4 linked regions of the Homo sapiens genome follow. The protein of the gene in region 3 interacts with the protein of the main gene of each other region in a biochemical or structural test. Each region holds a gene or a part of one and is shown on either strand. Other genes may lie near its edges.

Region 1 (4,865 bases), on a different chromosome or scaffold from region 3:
GGGCGGGGCCCAGCGCGTGGGCACACGTGCGGCCCAGAGCGTGGGCACACATGGGTCCTGGGCGGCATGTTCTGGCTGGCGTTGGCTGTCCGGTGAGGGGATGGTCAAGGAGACCCTCAGGTGGCACTGCTTAGGTTGGAGAGGTGGAGCGGGGGCATCTTCTGAGCTGTTGGATGCCAGGGGTGGTCCCGGGCCAGCTTCCTCCCGAGGCCAACTCTGTGGCACCCCGCAGGGCCGCCGGATGGCCCCCAGGCTCTTGGAGCAGTTCCTCCTTTCCTTTTGTTTTTGTGCTCGTCTTATTAACAAATCTGTGTCGGGGCGGTTTGCAGGGAAGTCCCTCCCCCGATGTCACCAAAATTGTCAAGTCATCCAGCCAGACCTGGGTCGGAGTCCCGGGCCCCACAGGCACTGTGACTTCCCAGTCCTGGCTGGCTGTAGTCCTCAGTTTCCCCATCTGTCACATCCCCTTTCCCTCTCAGGTTTGGCGATTCCTGGCCTCTTAGTGGGTCCCTGGGTCATGGTTTGCACACACGTTTGGGGGTGTGCCTCAGTTCCTCCCATCGGGTCCCGTGCCCTGGGCCTTGTGGAGGTGGGAGGTGCTGTCTGGGGTGAAGATCTGTTGGTCTGTCCCTGTCCCCCCGCTCTGCAGGACACCCTTCCTCTGTCCTCTGCTGTGCTGCTCCTGAGGCCCAACACCTGTGTGGCTGGTGTGTCTTACTTCCTCCCCGCCAGCCCCTGGTGGGGTCCCCAAACAGGACCCACACCACTGTCTCACCGTCAGGGATGTCCTGAGTGGCCACCTTGGTGCTGCAGTTTCATTTCATCATCTCTCTTGTGTATGTCTTCTCAGCCTTAACGGTCCTGTTGAGAAATCAGAGCCTCTGCCAGGCGCCGTGCTCCTGGAGGGTGTCCTCCTTGGGCTGCGAGGCTGAGTGTGGTGTATGGGCTGGTGTGAGGTCCTTGTGCCTGCATAGCAGAGCTGCCTTCCAGAGCTGGTGTGGCCATGCCCAGTGCTGCCAGTCAGGCCTTTCTGATGGGGATTCGTGTTTCATGGAGTGCTGACGTTTGCTCAGGCCCACCCTGTGCTGTGCAGGTTGGGAAACCGAGGGCAGACGGTTCAAGCCTTGCGCAGGGTCACATGCTGGGCCCTGGCCCCCATCCAGACCTTGTTGCTTTCACCAGAGGGCAGAGGAGCATGTGCCCAGCCTGGAGAGGTGTGTGCCCAGCCTGGAGAGGTGTGTACCCAGCCTGGAGAGGTGTGGACCCAGTCTGGTTCTTCCGGGTGCCTGGTGTGGGCAGGGAGGCTTGCTGTGGTGGCAGGTGCAGCCTTGTCCCTGGAAGATGGAAACTGGGACAGGGGCAGGCATAGTAGGCAGTGGCCGGGGCCCCTGTGCCCAGGCGTGGAGACTGGCCTGTTCTGGGGTGGAGGCCCGAGGCGTGGCTGGAGCTGGGGGGGGAAGGCCTCGTGTGCAGCCTTAGCCTGGCAGTCTCTGTGAGGATGCCACAGCACAGAGAGCTTGGTTTAGCCGAGACCACTCTCAGATCCTGGGGGCTTCAGGGAGACCCCTGCGAGCTTGGGGGCAGATGAGAGCGCTGTGCATGGCTGATGCCTGGCCTGGGCCTGCAGCAGTAAGCTCGCTGTCCTTTGAAAGTGATCATCAGATAACCAGGGGGGGCCCAGGGGGCAGCCAGTGCAGGCTTAGGGGAAGCTCAGGCACTGTGGGAGCCCAGAGGAGGCACCTGACCCTGCCTCGGGCACCCGGTGAGACGCAGGCAGGCAGGAGGGCTGTTGACGCCTGAGGAATGAAAAGGTGTCGGCACCACAGGCCTGGCTGCAGGGAGCAGTGTCCGTGAAGTCTGAGGCTGTCATCACACCTGGCCCTCGGAAGTCGGTGATGGCCTTTCTGAGCCCCGTCCCGGACCCTCCAGGCTGCACTGACTCCTTCCTAAGGCCCTGCAGCCCAGTCATCCATGTGCCTGGGATCATCAGACTCCAGCTGCCTGGGCCCCCCAAAGCCTGGGGACGACACCCCATCCCATCCCAGTGGAACCGTGCAGTGTTGGGGCTGGGGGGACCTGGAATCACCTGGTCAGACCGCTCCCCTGGTGCCCATCGGTGACTGGGTCCTGTTAGGAGCAGCTCATGTGGGGGACCACCCTGGACACCCCCTTCCTGATCCCCACACATGGTCTCACTCGCCCCATACCTGTGAGACAGAGAAATGGGGTATAGAGAGGTGAGCCGTGGGGAGGTCTAAGGGCCAGCACCAGGCGTGGCCCCCATTTCTTGCCGGTCCTTCCTGCTTCCAGTCCTTCCTCTTGGCAGCGCATAAGCCCTGGAGACCAGACTTAGGGCCGTGAGAGAAACTGCTGCTGCTGTCAAGGGACCTCCTCCCCTTTGCCTCCAGCAGGATTCTGAGGCGTGAACTTGCAGTCAGAATGCTGCCGAGCGCTCTCGCCCCAAACACAGCTGCAGAACTCAGCCTCGGTGTGGAGGGCACCTCTGCGTGGGCGGTGAGGAGGCAGTGAGGCCCCCGTGCCAAACGTGCCCTGCTGCCAGTGCCTCTCCTTGTGCACAGGGGGAGTCTCTTGCCTCCCCCAGCCTGGCTGTGTGGGCTGCACAGCCAGGCCTGTGGAGCTCCTTACTCTTGGGCAGTAACGGGGCCCCTGGTGCAGCCCAGGCACTCGCCCTGCAGGGACCCCACGTGGAAACGGTGGCTGGGAGGGCTTGGCAGGCACCCTCCTCCCCGGCCTGCGTCTGGGTGCTGGGCAAGACCCCTTGGCTCCAGATGGGTCCTGAAGTGCAGAGCACTCCCCTCTCTCCTCTTGGGCAAACCACTGCAAGGCAGGCTCCCCGACAGCGGAGGGCAGGGCTGTTGGCTGCATGGGTGAGGCATTGCAGCAGCCCTGGAGAAAGCTATGGGGCCAAGTTGGCCAACACTAGGTGCCTGTGGCCCAGAGCATGCAGGATGGGAGCTGTCGGCTCTGGGGACTGAGCCCTCCTAAGTGTCAGGCCCCCTGGTGGGCAGCTCCGCCCACTGGCCTTGGTGTCAAGTGGTCCCTCGGCCCGGTTTGTGATCAGACCCCTAGAAACAGGCTGGAGCTGAGGCGTCGCATCCCAGTGCAGTGCTGCGAGGGAGTCGCCTGGGGTTGGTCCCAGGGCTGGCTGAAGGCAGGATGGCCCAGGTGCCCCCATGCGGTGACTCTGCCCCCGGCAAAGGCCCACTCTGGCTCTGGGGCAGATGGGTTCCCACCCCTATGCGGTAGGATACCACAGGCTGATAGCATCTCAGGTTGGGCAATGGGGCCTGCACGCGCAGGCAGCCACCAGGAGGGACTCGTTCCGCAGCATTCCCGGGACCAGGGGTGGGCAGAGGTGGGGGGACGTGCAGTGGTGGGTGTTGGCCCTCTGCCAAGCTGAGCCTGGGCCTGTTTGCTGAAGCCGGGGAGGGGGCAGGGGTTGGGGGTCCCGCAGGGACACGTGCTCTGATGGGGAAGACAGGCCTCACCCTTGGGGGTTCCCAGTCCGATGGAAAAGACCTAGCTTCCACCCAGGGTCGTCGGGGGAGACATTGGTCTAGAGGGGGCAGTGGCTGTCCCCCATTCTGCTTCCTCCTCCTCCCTCAGGAAGGCTGCTTCCCATTTCCTTCCTGCCTGCCTTTGCTTCCTGTGCCCACCCTCCAGCTCTGAAGGACTGGGTGTGGAAACAGCAGGGTCTGGCGTGTGTGCACCTATGTGTGCACGTGTGTGCATGTGCGTGCACTGCAGGGATGTGGCTGACCCACAGGTCTCTGCTGTGGGAAGGGAGCCCCGGCTGGGCTCGAGTGTGGCCCTCTTGCCTTCTGGCCTGTGAACTGGGCAAGTGACCTTGCCTCGCCCAGTCCTCAGGTTCCTCATCTGTGATGGGCTGGGGGCATCAGGAAGACCCCTGCGAGCTTGGGGGTGGATGAGAGTGCTGTGCGTGGCTGGTGGTGGGGTTGGAGAGCAGTGGTCACGTGTGGGTGTGGGTGTGGTATGTCTGTGTGGTGTATGGGTGTGCGTGTGGTGTGTGTGTGATATGTCTGTGGTGTGGTATGTGTGGTGTGGTATGTCTCTGTGTGTCTGTGTGTGTATGTCTGCATGGTTTGTGTGCACGTGTGTGTGCATGGTTCTCGTGTTCTGATGCCTTGCTCTAGGTTGAAGCCCTGGAGGGAAGGTAAGTCACTCCCTTTAGAGACTCTAGCTTGCTGTGTGGCCTCTGGCGCTGCTCTCTGGGTCTCTGTCTCCCCACCCTTAAGAGGAGGCCAGAATGGTTTGGTGGAGTTCGGTCCTGCCTGTCTTGGGCCCAGCCCTGGGCTGCACAAGGGACGGAGGAAGGACTCAGCCATTGCCACTACCCAAGCCAGAGGAGCCAGTGGGCCTGGGGATGCCCCTCGGCTCCGACATGCCTGCCTCGGAGCTGTCTGCCCTTCCCCAGACCCCCTCCCTCCTGCTTGACCCTGAGGGGCTGTGGCAGGTCGGAGATGTCCTTTGCTTCTGAGGGGCTGCTGCACCCTGAGTCCTAGGCCAGCTTGTCTCTGGGGGCCTGGGACCCCAGTGATGCTGGGGAGGGTCCGCCTGGGCAGGAGTCTCAGGTCTTCCTGGGAGGACTGGGCTGCGGTGTGTGAGTCTCCTCTGCCTCTGAGCAGCCTCCCCCGTGCCTCCACTCTGCCTCCTCCAGCCGCCACGCTCTGGTCTGGAGGGTAAAGAGGCTCTGTGTTTACAGACACCTCCCGCCCGGCCTCCGGCGCCAGCGGAACATGAGTCAAGCATGACTTCGTCTAGAAGGTGATTGTGCTGGCAAAGCATAAATCCCGGCCCCTCCTGCCCCCCAGCCTATAAATAAA
Region 2 (4,865 bases), on a different chromosome or scaffold from region 3:
CAACCACATAAGTCTCTAGATTTGCCCTTTCTGAGACTTCGCATCATGTAAATTACATAAATCTGGTGTTTGACTGGATGCTGGATGCCCTGGTGGAGTGGCAGCACCTGCAGAGATCTGCATGTGTGTTTTTCTTGGTTCAGAGCTATTTTGAACATAGGGTACCAAAAGACTGTCTTTAGAACCCTGAGATTTTTGTATATTTCAACTTAAAATTTAAGAACATTTATGAACATAATATTAATCAATAATATTCACATCTTATTGCCGTTTACATAACACTTTTATTAAACAGTTTTAGTAGTTATAAAACTGATTTGCACTTAATTATTTTCGTAGTTATAAAACTGATTTGCACTTAATTATTTTCAGTTGAAGTGTTTTACAAATGATATGGTCATGTTTCACAATTACATGTAAGCAGCATACAGTGGTGATCTAGCTATCACAGGGCAAAGGTAGGATGCACTAATATTACGTTTTAAAAATAAAATTTAAGAAGGAAAAGGTTTCTAAATTACAGCTAATTGTAACTAGTAATATAACTAAAATAGTAAATTGTAACTACTATAATTATACTAATATAGTTCTATGAACTGGGCATGTTATTTATATAAATGCCTTAGTTTATGTTTTAAAACTGTGTTATAGGCCGGGTATGTTGGCTTACACCTGTAATCCTAGCACTTTGGGAGGCCAAGGCAGGCGGATGACTTGAGGTCAGGAGTTCAAGACCAGCCTGGCCAACATGGCAAAACCCTGTCTCTACTAAAAATACAAAAATTAGCTGGGTGTGGTGGCGGGCACCTCTAATCCCAGCTACTTGGGAGGCTGAGGCAGGACAATCGCTTGAACCCGGGAGGTGGAGGTTGCAGTGAGCAAAGATCACGCCACTGCACTCCAGCCTGGGCAACAGAGCGAAACTCTATCTCAAAAAAAAAAAAAAAGAAAAAAAAACTGTTATAGAATAATATTTATTTTCTTTGTATTAGTACTCTCATGCTTTTTGGTGTTTGAATATTATAAATGTACAAAATCCTTAAAATAACTGGAATCTAACAAAAGTTTTCTTTGAAATTTTTTAGAAGTCAGAGTCAGTTTCTCCCCATGAACATTCCTGTAGTTGTATCAAAAGTAAATTCAGTCCCTAAAACATTTGTTAAATAACAGGACTCTTTATAAGAAGCAGAATGTCATGGTTTTGCTGTTGATGTTTATTTCTCTGTGCCCAAAATGACAAATTCTAAAATGATGATCTCTGTTGATTAATCTCATGTGCCCAAGAAAAAAATCAAGTGTATGTTAACCAATAGCCTGGGCTATTTTGTCTGATAAAATAGGCAATTTTATTAGACAAAAATTGTCTATAGATACTGTTAATAAACACTTTGTCTAACAAAATATAACTTTACATTTTCTTGTAGGTTACCTTCCGAACAAGAATCTATCACTGTAATATTAACAGCCAAGGTGTGATCTGTCTGGACATCTTAAAGGACAACTGGAGTCCGGCTTTAACTATTTCTAAAGTTCTCCTCTCCATCTGCTCACTTCTTACAGATTGCAACCCTGGTAAGAGACTTTAAATCTAGTATGAATTGGAGCTTGTCAAGATTTAAATGTCAGACCCTTAGTAACTTGTTTACTACTGCTACTACCACTACCACCACTGCTTCTACTACTATTATTGTTAAATTTTCATAGTATGTAACTATTTTCTTTTTAAATTGGGTCTTCTCATTAGTGTTTTTAAGACCTATCATTTGCCAAAAAGGAAAAAGTATAGTGTGGTAAAAAAAATAATGAAAAATCATTTTAGATGGGAAAGTACGTTTAAAGAATGAATTAAGTTATCCTGCCAAATAATAATAAAAATTCAAGTTGAATAGCTTAATCTTTAATTAGATGCCTACTAGAAGATGTTAATTTGAGGAATGTGGGCTATTAAAATCTGATAACAACCAGGCAGCACCATGCAGACGTGACCTTTTTGGCATCCTAGTAACTGTGCATCCTGACAAGCTATTATAACGGTCCTGAATGGTCTGTTCTAGGAAATACCCCAAAAGTAAACAAGGAAATACACCTCCCAAGAAAACGAAAAAGTCTATAGCCAGGCCTTTATGGCTTGCTGGTGTGCTTACCACTGAAAATTCTTAATTCCTGGGCCATGTCTTTACAAATTGGGTTTATTTTAGAAAATACAAAAATCCAAAGATAGCTATAGGGTTTTCATTGATGTTCTCAGTGGGAGAATTATTTTATGAGTAATTAATAGCTTAAATATTGCATGAGATTCCCTCTTCTACAATCATGAGTAAACTCTGTTCACTGGATACATGAAATTTTACACAAATGGAAATGACGAGTATCAGTGGGGTTGCTTAGGATCCTGGCTGTTTTATAAAACATCAAGAAATAACAGTCTTTCTACTTTTATATTTCTTTATTTTTCAGCAGTAAAATCTTTTTTAAAGTAGCAAATTAGTATTTTTTTTTTTTTTTTTTTTTTGAAACTGAGTCTCACTGTGTCACCCAGGCTGGAGTGCAGTGGCACGATCTTGGCTCCCGCAACCTCCGCCTCCTGGATTCAAGCGATTCTCCTATCTTAGCCCCCCAAGTAGCTGGGATTACAGCCGTGTGCCGCCAAGCCCAGCTTATTTTTGTACTTTTAGTAGAGACGGGGTTTCACCGTGTTGGCCAGCCAGGTCTCGAACTCCTGACCTTGTGATCCGCCCGCTTTGGCCCCCCAAAGTGCTGGGATTACAGGCATGAGCCACTGTACCCAGCCTGCCCAAAAAATAAAATTGTGCAGGATCATTATAAAATATTTTTTGAATTAATTCATACTTTACTACAGACAGTAAAGTCCAATAATGTTATACTAATTTAAAGTTAATTTTGTTCTTTCAGTCCTGTTGTTCCCATTTTAATCCCATTTGTCTGTGACTGTGTATAACCTTGTATAACCTCATTTGGAGGTAATGTTGCAAGAAGGCTTTTTTTTTTTTTTTTTTTTTGAGGTGATTTCGAAGCCTGGCCTGCTTTGCCTCCAAGTCAGCTGAAATGGAATCTGTTACCCTGAATAAGCCTGTATATGACAGCCTGTTCTCTCTACAGATATTCCTGCTTAAAGGAATAGATTCATTCCACCAAAGCCTTCTCTCAGCAATCAAAAAGACTTCTGTTCAGTGAACTAGTTTTTTTTTTTTGCTCCGTTTCAGAAAATTACAAATGCATTCTGCAAAAACTTAAAAATCACTCCTAACTAAAGCAGAACCACATAAGTAAAAGAAATAGATTTTGAAATAATGCTATTGATAGTAAGAACAAGCCTAAAAATAATGTTCCATAAAACCAAAGACAGCCTGCCTCATATGAGACTAGAAGAGAATTTGTAAAATACATGCTAACATTTAGTTTATCACACTTTTTAACACATAAAAATAAAGTTTCCTAATTGGTTTTTATGAATGTTGACACTTCTAGAATCTTAAATAGAGTTGTTTATTTTAAAGTAGTCAAATGTCCATTCTTTTGCTTAATGGACTTATTTCACACTGTTATCTGGTACACTTTCAATCTCTGTAGGTTTTTTTACCTACAGAGGTAGGAAAGATTAGGTTAGATTGAAGTTTATCTTAAATCTATCTTCAAATTATCACAAAAACAAGTTTGATAGAATAGGAATAAATAAGATTTTCCTACACTGAATCTGTAGAGCTATTTTAACCCGGAAATGCTGTCACCTCAAAAATAGGCCTTGTATAATGATACAAATTTAACTCACTTAAAAAATACTTTCTCACTCTTATCCATACATAAACTTATTTTCTAAATCTTTTTCATACTCTTTTTGTAATTTGCACTTGTCTCTTTAAAGAATTTTTGGTCCATTCCAACACAGATGTTCTTTAGGGTATGACTACCCATCCTTATCAGCATGATATTTGTAGACAGCAGATGTAGATTTGAAAACCAGTTTAATTGTTTATTAGTCATATCACATTGGATGGGTCACTTAACTTTCCACAGGCTTAGTTTTTGATATAAAATTGGGATTAGTACCAGCCCTGCCTAAATCACTGGATTCCTCTGAGGTTAAAATGAGATGGTATATGTGAAAGCCATTTATAAATGGTAATGTGTTGTTGATATTGTTACCCAGAGTATTTGGGACACCAAATGGGCCCACAATAGGTGACCGATAAACACCTACTCAGTTGAATTTAACTGGGGAGATAGTATCGAATAGTATCTAACGCCGTCACCTCAACATTGACACTTGGATTTTACAATCGAAAAAAGCTGAACCTTGACTTAGTAGGATTATCACTCAGGTGGCAGATGTCCAAACGTTATCAGCCAGTCGATGGGTGCACCAGCAATAATCATTCTGTTTTCAATGCAATTGTCTAGGTAGATCTAACTGCTGGTCTTATTAGGCCACCACTTCATGATGGTGTTTATTGAGCCTGATAGAGCATTCTTTTTTTTTTTTTTTTTTTTTTTGAGATGGAGTCTCGCTCTGTCGCCCAGGCTGGATTGCAATGGCACGATCTCAGCTCACTGCATCCTCTCCTCCCGGGTTCAAGCGATTCTCCTGCCTCAGCCTCCCGAGTAGCTGGGTCTACAGGCCCCACCACCATGCCTGGCTAATTTTTTGTATTTTTAGTAGAGACAAGGCTTCACCGTGTTAGCCAGGATGGTCTCAATCTCCTGACCTCGTGATCCGCCCGCCTCGGCCTCCCAAAGTGCTGGGATGACAGGCGTGAGCCACCCAACCAGCCAAGCATTCTTATTTGTTAGACGTTACCTGGCTTTTTCTGAGTTTAGTCTTGCTTACTAAACATTATTTAATTTGT
Region 3 (4,865 bases):
TGGTATCAAAAATCTGCCCCCTGATGATTTCTCGAAACCACTGTGTTTTGAAGCAGAATCCTGAGGGCCAATGGACAATTATGGACAACAAGGTACAGGAATTCACAGAAGCCTAATGACTTTTATTTGTTTTTAAATTACTTTTTTTTTTTTTTGCATAGGTAATTCATGGTATAAAATTCAAAAGTATAACTTCTTCTTTCCTAGCCATCCAGTTCCCTTTTCCAGAGGCAGCCACTTCCATATGCTGCCAGAGATTCGATTATGCTAAAATAATTTCTCTTGATTTGGGTTAAAGTTTGTTAACTTGAAGAGAATACCTGAATTGGGGTAGTAGGTCCTATTCCAGAAACTAGACTAAGTTACTGGGCAAATAAGCCTGTTTGAGGTGAAGCTCCCAGAGACCCTGGGAATCTGCAGAATCTGCTGACGCTTCTGGAGTACACTTATGGCTCAGTGGACAAGGGGAGGAGGGAGAAACTGATCTGATTGCGCTTAGCTCCTTTCCTTCCTCACTCCTTTCAATCTGAGCAACCTCCCCTGGCCTTTAAAACATGTTTTAAATATTGGTGTTCCGAAGATTTCCTTTGAATAATGGGTTTTTCTCCTTTAAACAAATTTGAAAACCACTAGTTTAGTGGTAAATATATTGAGGGAGGTGCAATAGTATATGAAGCCCAGCAATTAGAAAGTACCTAATGTGCTGGGTGTGGTGGCACATGCCTGTAGTCCCAACTACTGGAGAAGCTGAGGCCAGAGGATTGTTTGAGCCCATGAATTCTGGGTTATAGTGTGCTATGCCATTCTGGTGTCTGCCTTAAGTTCGGCATCAATATGGTGTCCTCCTGGGAGCAGGGGACCACCAGTTTGTCTAAGGAGAGGTGAACTGACCCAGGTTGGAAGGAGGGCAGGTCAAAACTGCTGTGCTCATCAACAAAGGGATTGCACCTGTGAATAGCCACTGCACTCCAGTGTGGCTGACATAGTGAAGCCCTGTCGCTATCAAAAAGAAAAGAAGATACCTAAAGTGCAGATATACAAGCACCGAGGAATGTGATGAAAATACAGACTATGAGGTGAGAGAAATTCTAACATAAACAGTTAATGTTTAGGAAGTATAACATGTCTTTAAGTGCCATTTCATATTGCTTCACTGCCCCAGTTAGGATTTTAAAGGTACCATTAGAAGGGAGGGTATCCCACAGGTCTGCCTGCCATCCTCATATTGCGTGCATAAAACTGCTAGATTTAAGCTGTTGGAAAGTATCTTCCTGCTCTAGAATTAAGTTGAGTTGGCACTGTATTGAAGGAGACAGTACATAAATGCTAAGTAAATCAGTTCAGCACTTTTAGCAAGGCACCATGAGCAGGATAAAAATTGGCACTGAGATTATCTACTTTAACCCCTTATGTAGACAGATGAATCTGAGGCCCAGAGAGATAAACTGTCTTGCCCAAAGCCTTCTCTATAATGAGCCAGGACTTAAGTTTCTCTGCTATGCCCTGTGTCAAGTATCAGTAAAGTATGTAAGCAATTTGCTATACTGGCTTTATGACGTCAAACAATTAATTATGCATATTTAAAATATAGCTGCAAGGTTTTAAAGCCTCTGTAATAGCGTATATCAAAACAGCTTAGGAAAAGATGTTTTCCTCATCAGAGTAGGCTGTATGAGAGTTAGGATTACAATATTATAGAGGTGAGTTCTCTGCTGCTGCTTTTCTTAATTATGTGCAGTGTAGATGTGATCCACTTATGGGATTAGCAGATTTTCATAGGTTGGGAAGCCAACAGCTGATCAACTTCAGTGTTATTTGAATTTCAACCACAGGGATACAGAGGCAGCCTGTGCAAGATCAGATCATGACTGTGCTCCGGGCTCACTCTCCAGTGTTTGCTTTGTACCCTTCCTTCTAGGGTTGCTGTTATCATATGATTCTTCTCAGGTCTCAGTCAGGCAATAGAGAGGAAAGATAGGTTTCTTAACAACCTGTTTAAACTTTTTAGCTGTGATTGTTTGTGAGATAACTGATTTAATTTTAAGAGAAGCTAGGACTGGGGTGTTTTGATGGAACAATTCTTACAAGTAAATCCCCCCTGCCCCCTGCACTTTTCTTTTGACTACAGATGCCCCCTTTCTGGCTTCCTCCTGGCATGATGCCATGGCAGCCCTCTTCTGCTGATAAGAGACCTGAATTTCAGCTGTAGGGTATTATTGCTGTGGTTGTGTTTGAAGTCATTTGCCAAATCTTTTTCAAGAGATAGGTGTTTCTAACAAGTTAAAAACTCAGAGCTGCATTCTCTTATCTGCTGGAATGGCCAGAAAGTGAGAGCTTAAGTATAGATACAAAAATTGCAAGAAATGTTATTTTGGTTTAAAATTGGCTTAAAATATAGAAAAAAACCTTGGAGGACAGCTAAGTCTGCACACAGTATGAGGATGGTTCTAGTTGTGTAGGTTTTGGTCAATTCATAAGCTTTTCAGATGGCCCGTCCTTTGTATTGGTATCCAGCTCTTTCAGAAAATTGGTTGTTTTAAAGTCACAGTATGAAATGCCTTAGAGGTTCAGTCACGTCTTACTTGAGCCTTTCCCATTCTTACCCTCCTCTCCTGTTGCTTTTCACCTGCTGCCTGGTGATTCCTACCTTTGTTCTTCTGCAGACTCTGGCATTTGAAGTCCCTGTTGAGTGTACTCTTACGTGAACAAAGTTTGCTGTTTGGGACAGTTCAGCTTCTGGTCCTCCAGCAACTAGAGCAGTGGTTATCAACCCTGTTTCCAGTTTTTACTCTCACCTGGGGCACTTTTTAAAAATACTGATGGTAGTACAATAAAAGCGTTCATTCGTCAAAAAACACCATTAAGAGAGTAAAAGGCAAACTCAGAGGAAGATGTTTGCTACACATTATAGTCAATGAAGGGTTTATACTGAGGTATCTGCAGAACTCCAATAAGAAAAAGACAGATATGCCCTATTTAAAAATGAGCAAGAGACAAGCACTTCACAAAAGGTTCTATCCAATGAAAAGTTGTTCAACCTCATTAATAATCTGGGGAATTTAAATTAAAACCATAATGGAATACCTCTACACATTCACCAGAGTGGCTAAAATTGAAGACTAGTGATGCCAGGTATTGGTAAGGATATGGAGTGATAGAATGTTCTTACCCTTCTGTTGGGAGTGTAAATTGGTACAATTTGGGAAATTATTTGGCATTATTCATTAAAGTTGAACATACATATAGCTCTTGACACAGTATTTTCACTCCCCGGGAAACAGCCCAAATGTCCATCAACAGTAGAATGGATAAATTGTGGAATAATCTTATATTGAAACACTATACTATAGTGAATATGAATGAACTACTATATCTAATAACATGGATAAACCTCACATAATATTGAGTGAAAGAAGGCTGGGCGCTGTGGCTCACGCCTGTAATCCCAGCACTTTGGGAGGCCGAGGCGGGCGGATCACGAGGTCAGGAGATCGAGACCATCCTGGCTAACATGGTGAAACCCCGTCTCTACTAAAAATATAAAAAATTAGCCAGGCGTGGTGGCGGGTGCCTGTGGTCCCAGCTGCTCTGGAAGCTGAGGCAGGAGAATGGCATGAACCTGGGAGGCGGAGCTTGCAGTGAGCCGAGATCAGGCCATTGCACTCCAGCCTGGGGGACAGAGCGAGACTCTGTCTCAAAAAAAAAAAAAAAAAAAAATTGAGTGAAAGAAGACAGACACAAAAGAATACATATTATATGATGCCATTTATACAATGTTTAAAACCAGGCAAAATTTACATGTGCTGTTAAATCTGGATAGTAGTCACTTTATTGCCAAGGTGGCTACTGACTAGAAGGAGACACACAGGGGTTTCTGGGATGCTGATAATGTGGGGTTTGTTTTGTTTTTGACCTTATGGTAGTTACACTAAGATGTTCATTTTGTGACTGTTCATCGAGTTGGTACATTTATGATTTGTGCACGTTTATGTTTGCATGTTCCGCTTTAGTAAAGACTTTAAAAAATATATTGACGGATACATACTTAATACAATTGCTGAAATAAGACTTGATGATACCAAGTGCTGGCAAGCATGCAGAATAACTGGAACTCCTCAACATTCAAGTGTGAATATAAAATGGTACCTCCACTTTGAAAAACTGGTGGTTTCTAAGAGTCAAATATATACTTGTCCAGTGATCCTATTTCTAGGTATTTACCCAAGATTAATGAAAGCTTATGTTCTCGCAGAAACTTGTATGTGAATGTTTCTAGTGGCTTTATTTTTTTTGTTTTTATATTTTGAGATGGAGTTTCGCTCTTTTTGCCCAGGCTGGAGTGCAATGGCGTGAACCCGGCTCCCCAAACCTCTGCCTCCCGGGTTCAAGTGATTTTCCTGCCTCAGCCTCCCGAGTAGCTGGGATTACAGGCATGCGGCACCACGCCTGGCTAATTTTTGTCTTTTTAGTAGAGGTGGGTTTCACCATGTTGGCCAGGCTGGTCTTGAACTCCTAACCTCAGCTGATCCACCTGCCTCGGCTTCCCAAAGTGTTAGGATTACAGGCGTGAGCCACCACACCTGGCCTGTAGTGGCTTTATTAATATTCACCAAAAACTGGGAAAAAAAACAACTAGGGAATGGATAAACTGTGCTCCACCCCTACTACCTTCAATATTACTCAGCAATAAAATATAACAAACTGCCGATAATGCAACAGTGTGGACGAATCTCAGAGGCGTTACACTAAGTGAAAGAAGCAAGACTCAAAAGTGTAGATAATAAGATTCCATTTGTATTACATTCTGGGAAAGAGAAGAGAACAGATAAGTAGTTGCCTGGGAATGCGGGAAAGGTTGACTACCA
Region 4 (4,865 bases), on a different chromosome or scaffold from region 3:
GCTCACACCTCAGCTCACAGTTGCGTCCTTGCAGGAGGACACTGGGTGTCTGACAAACACAAGGCCTCGACAGCAGGTCTGGAACTTTCAACCCCAGCAGGATGAGGGGGAATGGGGGTGGATGTCAGGTAAGTAATTTCTGGTCCCACTACAAAACTTTATTTTTGATTAGAGTACCATTCTCAATCTCTTCTACAAAAAGCAAAAAAAAGCAAAAAAAAAAAAAAAAAAAAGCAGCCACTTCACTCACTTCAAGACCTATATACATGTAAAGTTGTTTTCTGTGGTTTTTTTTATTTTTAATTTTTTTAAATTTTTATTATTATTTTTTAAAATAAATTCAGTGTTCACATTTCTATAAAGAATTAACCCAGTTTCAGGAAACCCTGCCCCAGCAGGGCAGGTAAGCAACCCTCTCCCTGCCCACATCTAGTTTGATTTCACGCCCTGATGCTTCAAGGTGCCCAGAAAAGCGGCAGCTTGTGGAAGAGGAAATCTATGCCCGGCCCGTGCTTGGGGCCCGGGGCTCAGTAAGCTTTCGAGAAAGCAGAGGGGAAGACTAGCTTACTGCAAAAACCTTTTTAAAAAATATTCATACACTTCAGTGAGCGCCTGTTGAGACGTTAGGGGAACAAGAGCTTGGAAACATCCCGTCCAGGCCATTGGGAGGCAGCGTCTTCCTCACACCCCGTCCCTGGATGTCGGGGGTGCAGGGGGAAGGTCCCGGCTCTTCCACTGGAGAAAGGAGACTCACCTGGCTTCCTAGTTCATGTTTGACTATTTCCTCTAAAACCTGTGCTGAGTCTTTGACTGCATGCACGGGAAGCACAAACGTTCGGCTTGTATGCAAAAAAAGTACAAAAACAACTAGAATATAAAAGTTTTGGTAATATAAGGCCATCTGTTCAAGTCCACCTTGGAAACCTGTAACAGATATTTAAATACTACAGTGAAAAGGCATCTTAATATACTTTTTAAAAACATCTGAAGTAATCCGCTAAGATTAAGTGTGTAAAAAAAAAATTCAATTCCCTTTGAGGGCACTTTGTCCTTTGAAGAAGGGAAAGTGGGGCGGGGAGGGCACGGGGCCCACCGGTTAATGCTTCAGCCACGGGTGGGCTTCAATGGAAGCCTTGCTGCGGTCCCCATAGTCATACAGGAGCTCCTCCCCAGCCGCGATGTCTCGGGAGGCGATGAGGATGAGGTGAGGTACGCCGTCGATGTCGTGCAGTTTGGTTTGGCAGTTCCCACATTTGCTGTGATTGATCAGTCTTCCTAGGCGATTTGTCTCTCTAGTTGCATCCACGCTGGAGGGGAAGGAGGGCCAGAGAGGATTAAATGGATAAAGAGGCTTTTCAACCTGAAGAGAGTCACACTTGTGCTCAGCTCTGGTGGGATGCTGATTTAAAGCCATGTGTTTTGAAAAGATTCAATTCATAAAGCTATTTTCTTTTTCCTTTTTAGAGGGGGTCTCGCTCCGTAACCCAGGCTGGAGTGCAGTGGCACGATCACGGCTCACTGCAGCCTCCACCTCCCGGGCTCAAGTCATCCTCCTACCTCAGCCTCCCGAGTAGCTTTGACCACAGGTACATGCCACCACATCAGGCTAATTTTTAATTGTTTCTGTAGAGACAAGATCTCCCTATATTGCTCAGGCTGGTCTCCAACCCCTGGGCTCAAGTGATCCTCTGGCCTTGGCCTCCTGAGTTTTTGAGATTACAAGCACGAGCCACCAGGTCTGGCTCAATTTGCAAAGCTTTTTTTTTTTTTTTTTTTTTTTTGAGAGGGAGTCTCGTCGCTCTGTCGCCCAGGCTGGAGTGCAGTGGCACGATCTCAGCTCACTGCAACCTCTGCCTCCCGGGGTAAGGCAATTCTGCCTCAGCCTCCTGAGTCACTGGGATTAGAAGCGTGTGCCACCATGCCAGGCTAATTTTTTTGTATTTTTAGTAGAGATGGGGTTTTGCCATGTTGGTCTGGAGCTCCTGACCTTCATGATCCATCCACCTCGGCCACCCAAAGTGCTGGGATCACAGGCATGAGCTACCACGCCTGGCCCACAAAGCTATTTTTGAGAGCCTGCACAGGCCCTGGGTGGGGGGATGGGGTAGGACCCAAAGGGCTCTTTATGGAGGCACAGGAGGAAATGGTAGAGTTTCACAAAATAAATGGATTAAAAAAATCAACCCCGCCAGGCGCGGTGGCTCACGCCTGTAATCCCAGCACTTTCGGAGGCTGAGGCGGGTGGATTACCTGAGGTCAGGATTTCAAAACCAGCCTGGCCACCATGGTGAAACGCTGTCTGTGCTAAAAATACAAAATTAGCTGGGCGTGGTGGCGCATGCCTGTAATCCCAGTTACTTGGGAGGCTGAGGCAGGAGAATTGCTTAAACTTCGGAAGTGGAAGTTGCAGTGAGCCAAGATCGTGCCACTGCACTCCTGCCTGGACAACAAGAGTGAAACTCCATCTCAAAAAAATAAAATAAAATAAAAAATAAAAAATTCAACTCCACTGGTCCTAGCCAGGCAAGATCAATTAGTGATTTCCAGAGCTGCTCTGGCCAAATGCCCTGAAGGAGAGCCAGGTGAGCTGCTTAACAGGTTTTCATGTGACTAGCCCACTTCTCCCCTTGGATGAGATAACATCCAGGACAGCTCCAATTCCAAAGATTAAAAATGGGAAGCTGGGGCCACAGTGGCTCATGCCTGTAATCCCAGCACTTTGGGAGGCCAAGGTGGGCAGGTCACAAGGTTAGGAGATTGAGACCATCCTGGCTAACACAGTGAAACTCCATCTCTACTAAAAATACAAAAAATTAGCCAGGCATGGTGGCATGTGTGTGTAGTCCCAGCTACTCAGGAGGCTGAGGCAGGAGAATCGCTTGAACCTGGGAGGTGGAGGTTGCAGTAAGCCAAGATTGCACCACTGCACTCCAGCCTGGGTGACAGAACGAGACTCCGTCTCAAAAGAAAAAAAAAAAGGGAAGCTGGGGCCAGGCGCAGTGGCTCACATCTGTAATCCCAGAACTTTGGGAGGCTAAGGCAGGCAGACCATATGAGGTCAGACCAGCCTGGCCAACATAATGAAACCCTGTCTCTACTAAAAAAATATATAAGAATTAGCTGGGCGTGGTGACGCACACCTGTAATCCCAGTTACGTGGGAGGCTGAGACAGAATACCTTGAACCCGGGAGGTGGAGGTTGCAGTGAGCCAAGATTGTGCCACTGCACTCCAGCTTGGGCGACAGATCGAGATTCAAAAAAAAAAAAAAAAAAAAAAAAAAGGAAGCAGGCGATAATTGCATCACAGCTTTGAAAAAAGGCAACAACAGCCCGAGCGCAGTGGCTCACACCTGTAATCCTAGCACTTTGGAAGGCCAAGGCGGGTGGATCGTCTGAGGTCAGGAGTTCAAGACCAGCTTGGCCAATGTGGCAAAACTCCACCTCTACTAAAAATACAGAAAAAAAAAATTAGCTGGGCTACTCTGGAGGCTGAGGGAGGAGAATTCTTTGAGCCTGAGAGGAGGTTGCAATGAGCCGAGATCACACCACTGCACTCCAGCCTGGGCAACAGAGCAAGACTCCATCTCAAAAAATAAAAAAAAAAAAGTCAACAACAACAAAACCAAAAGACTGGCCACCAAACAGAATCAGGAGTTCCTGGCCCTTTGGCCTCTCCTCACTGCCCAGAGGACAGAAAAGCCACTCTAAGCAACAGTGGACTCACCAGTAGGTTTTGCTCAGATACTGAAAATAGTACATGTAGCAGCCCGTGGAAGGGTCCTGTGCGTACAGAGCCTCCCGTTTCTTGGCGTCGGTGATCTCGATGAGGTCCCCGTGGTATTCCACCACAAAGTCACCCCGGGAGAACTGCTTGGTGGCAATCACACCCCTGCCTTTGCCATCGATGAGGTCAATCTGTCAGGTGATAAGAGAGGGTGTTGGTTCATAATAGCAATGGATGCCACTGTGCACAGCAGGTCTCCGGGGAGCTGGGGCTTACCCCAGTCTTTAACAGCTGTACTGAGCCATGTCATAAAATTCACTCACTTTACATGTACAGGCTGATGGGTTTTATGAAGTGTATACAGCTGTGCAACCGTCACTACAGGCCAGCTCTAGAACGTTCCCTCACTCCACAAACGTGGTTCCTTGGTGCTCATCTGCAAAGCAGTTACATCAGAGCTCGTGAGAGATCTGCTAGGTGGAGACTGCCCCATTTTGTAGATGAGGAAACTGAGGCTTAAAGAGGCACAACCACGTGTCTGAGGCCACACAGCTAGACAGTGACACAGCTCAAATCCACACACCTGGTTTCTCTGTCTAGGGGCTATGCGCTATGCCTTCCTAGGCAAACAGCAGGCCCAGTGTTCTGGGTCTCTACCTCATTCCACGATTTCTCTCCTGTGTCTCCTCACTCTATTCTACATGGAGTTGAATGGGGTTGCTGGAGGGGCCCAGGACTTAAGCCGGAATCCCCCTAGGTGGTGGGTGGAAGTGGAAGCTTTCTGAACCCGGAGCCCTAGTCTAGGCCCATCTGAACCCCACTGTAGAGAGTACTTCTCCTCTCGCCCAAACTGAGTGTGGTTGAAATACAGTAAGAGAAAAGCACATTTCTTGGGCATTGTCATTATCTAGGAAAACAGTTTAAAAATGTATTAGTTTCTCCTTTTAAAAGTTTCCCTGGGCATCAGCTACATATTGTATAATCCGATTTATATGAAGTGCCCAGAAGAGCAACTCCACTGAGACAGAAAGCAGCTGAGTGGCTGCCAGGGGCTGGGCAGGGGAGAGGTGGGGATGGTGGGCAGTGGTAAGTAATGGGTAAGGGTTTCCATTTGGGAGGATGAAAAAATTCTGAAATTAG

What was found.
Region 1: the proteins of RNF8 (region 3) and RXRA form a complex in vitro, tested with the Homo sapiens proteins (one study listed by BioGRID).
Region 2: the proteins of RNF8 (region 3) and UBE2E2 form a complex in vitro, tested with the Homo sapiens proteins (2 studies listed by BioGRID).
Region 4: the proteins of RNF8 (region 3) and KMT5A form a complex in vitro, tested with the Homo sapiens proteins (one study listed by BioGRID).

The regions. Positions count from the first base shown.
Region 1 is NC_000009.12:134,409,258-134,414,122, forward strand, and holds part of RXRA (retinoic acid receptor RXR-alpha), read left to right. Parts: intron 1-4,865. UniProt on the Homo sapiens protein: Receptor for retinoic acid that acts as a transcription factor.
Region 2 is NC_000003.12:23,531,130-23,535,994, forward strand, and holds part of UBE2E2 (ubiquitin-conjugating enzyme E2 E2), read left to right. Parts: intron 1-1,424; coding exon 1,425-1,572; intron 1,573-3,023; coding exon of another isoform or gene 3,024-3,085; exon of another isoform or gene 3,086-4,865.
Region 3 is NC_000006.12:37,360,483-37,365,347, forward strand, and holds part of RNF8 (E3 ubiquitin-protein ligase RNF8), read left to right. Parts: coding exon 1-92; intron 93-4,865. UniProt on the Homo sapiens protein: E3 ubiquitin-protein ligase that plays a key role in DNA damage signaling via 2 distinct roles: by mediating the 'Lys-63'-linked ubiquitination of histones H2A and H2AX and promoting the recruitment of DNA repair proteins at double-strand breaks (DSBs) sites, and by catalyzing 'Lys-48'-linked ubiquitination to remove target proteins from DNA damage sites.
Region 4 is NC_000012.12:123,403,935-123,408,799, reverse strand, and holds part of KMT5A (N-lysine methyltransferase KMT5A), read right to left. Parts: intron 4,162-4,865; exon of another isoform or gene 4,049-4,161; intron 3,917-4,048; coding exon 3,726-3,916; intron 1,308-3,725; coding exon 1,097-1,307; 3' UTR 1-1,096. UniProt on the Homo sapiens protein: Protein-lysine N-methyltransferase that monomethylates both histones and non-histone proteins. Specifically monomethylates 'Lys-20' of histone H4 (H4K20me1).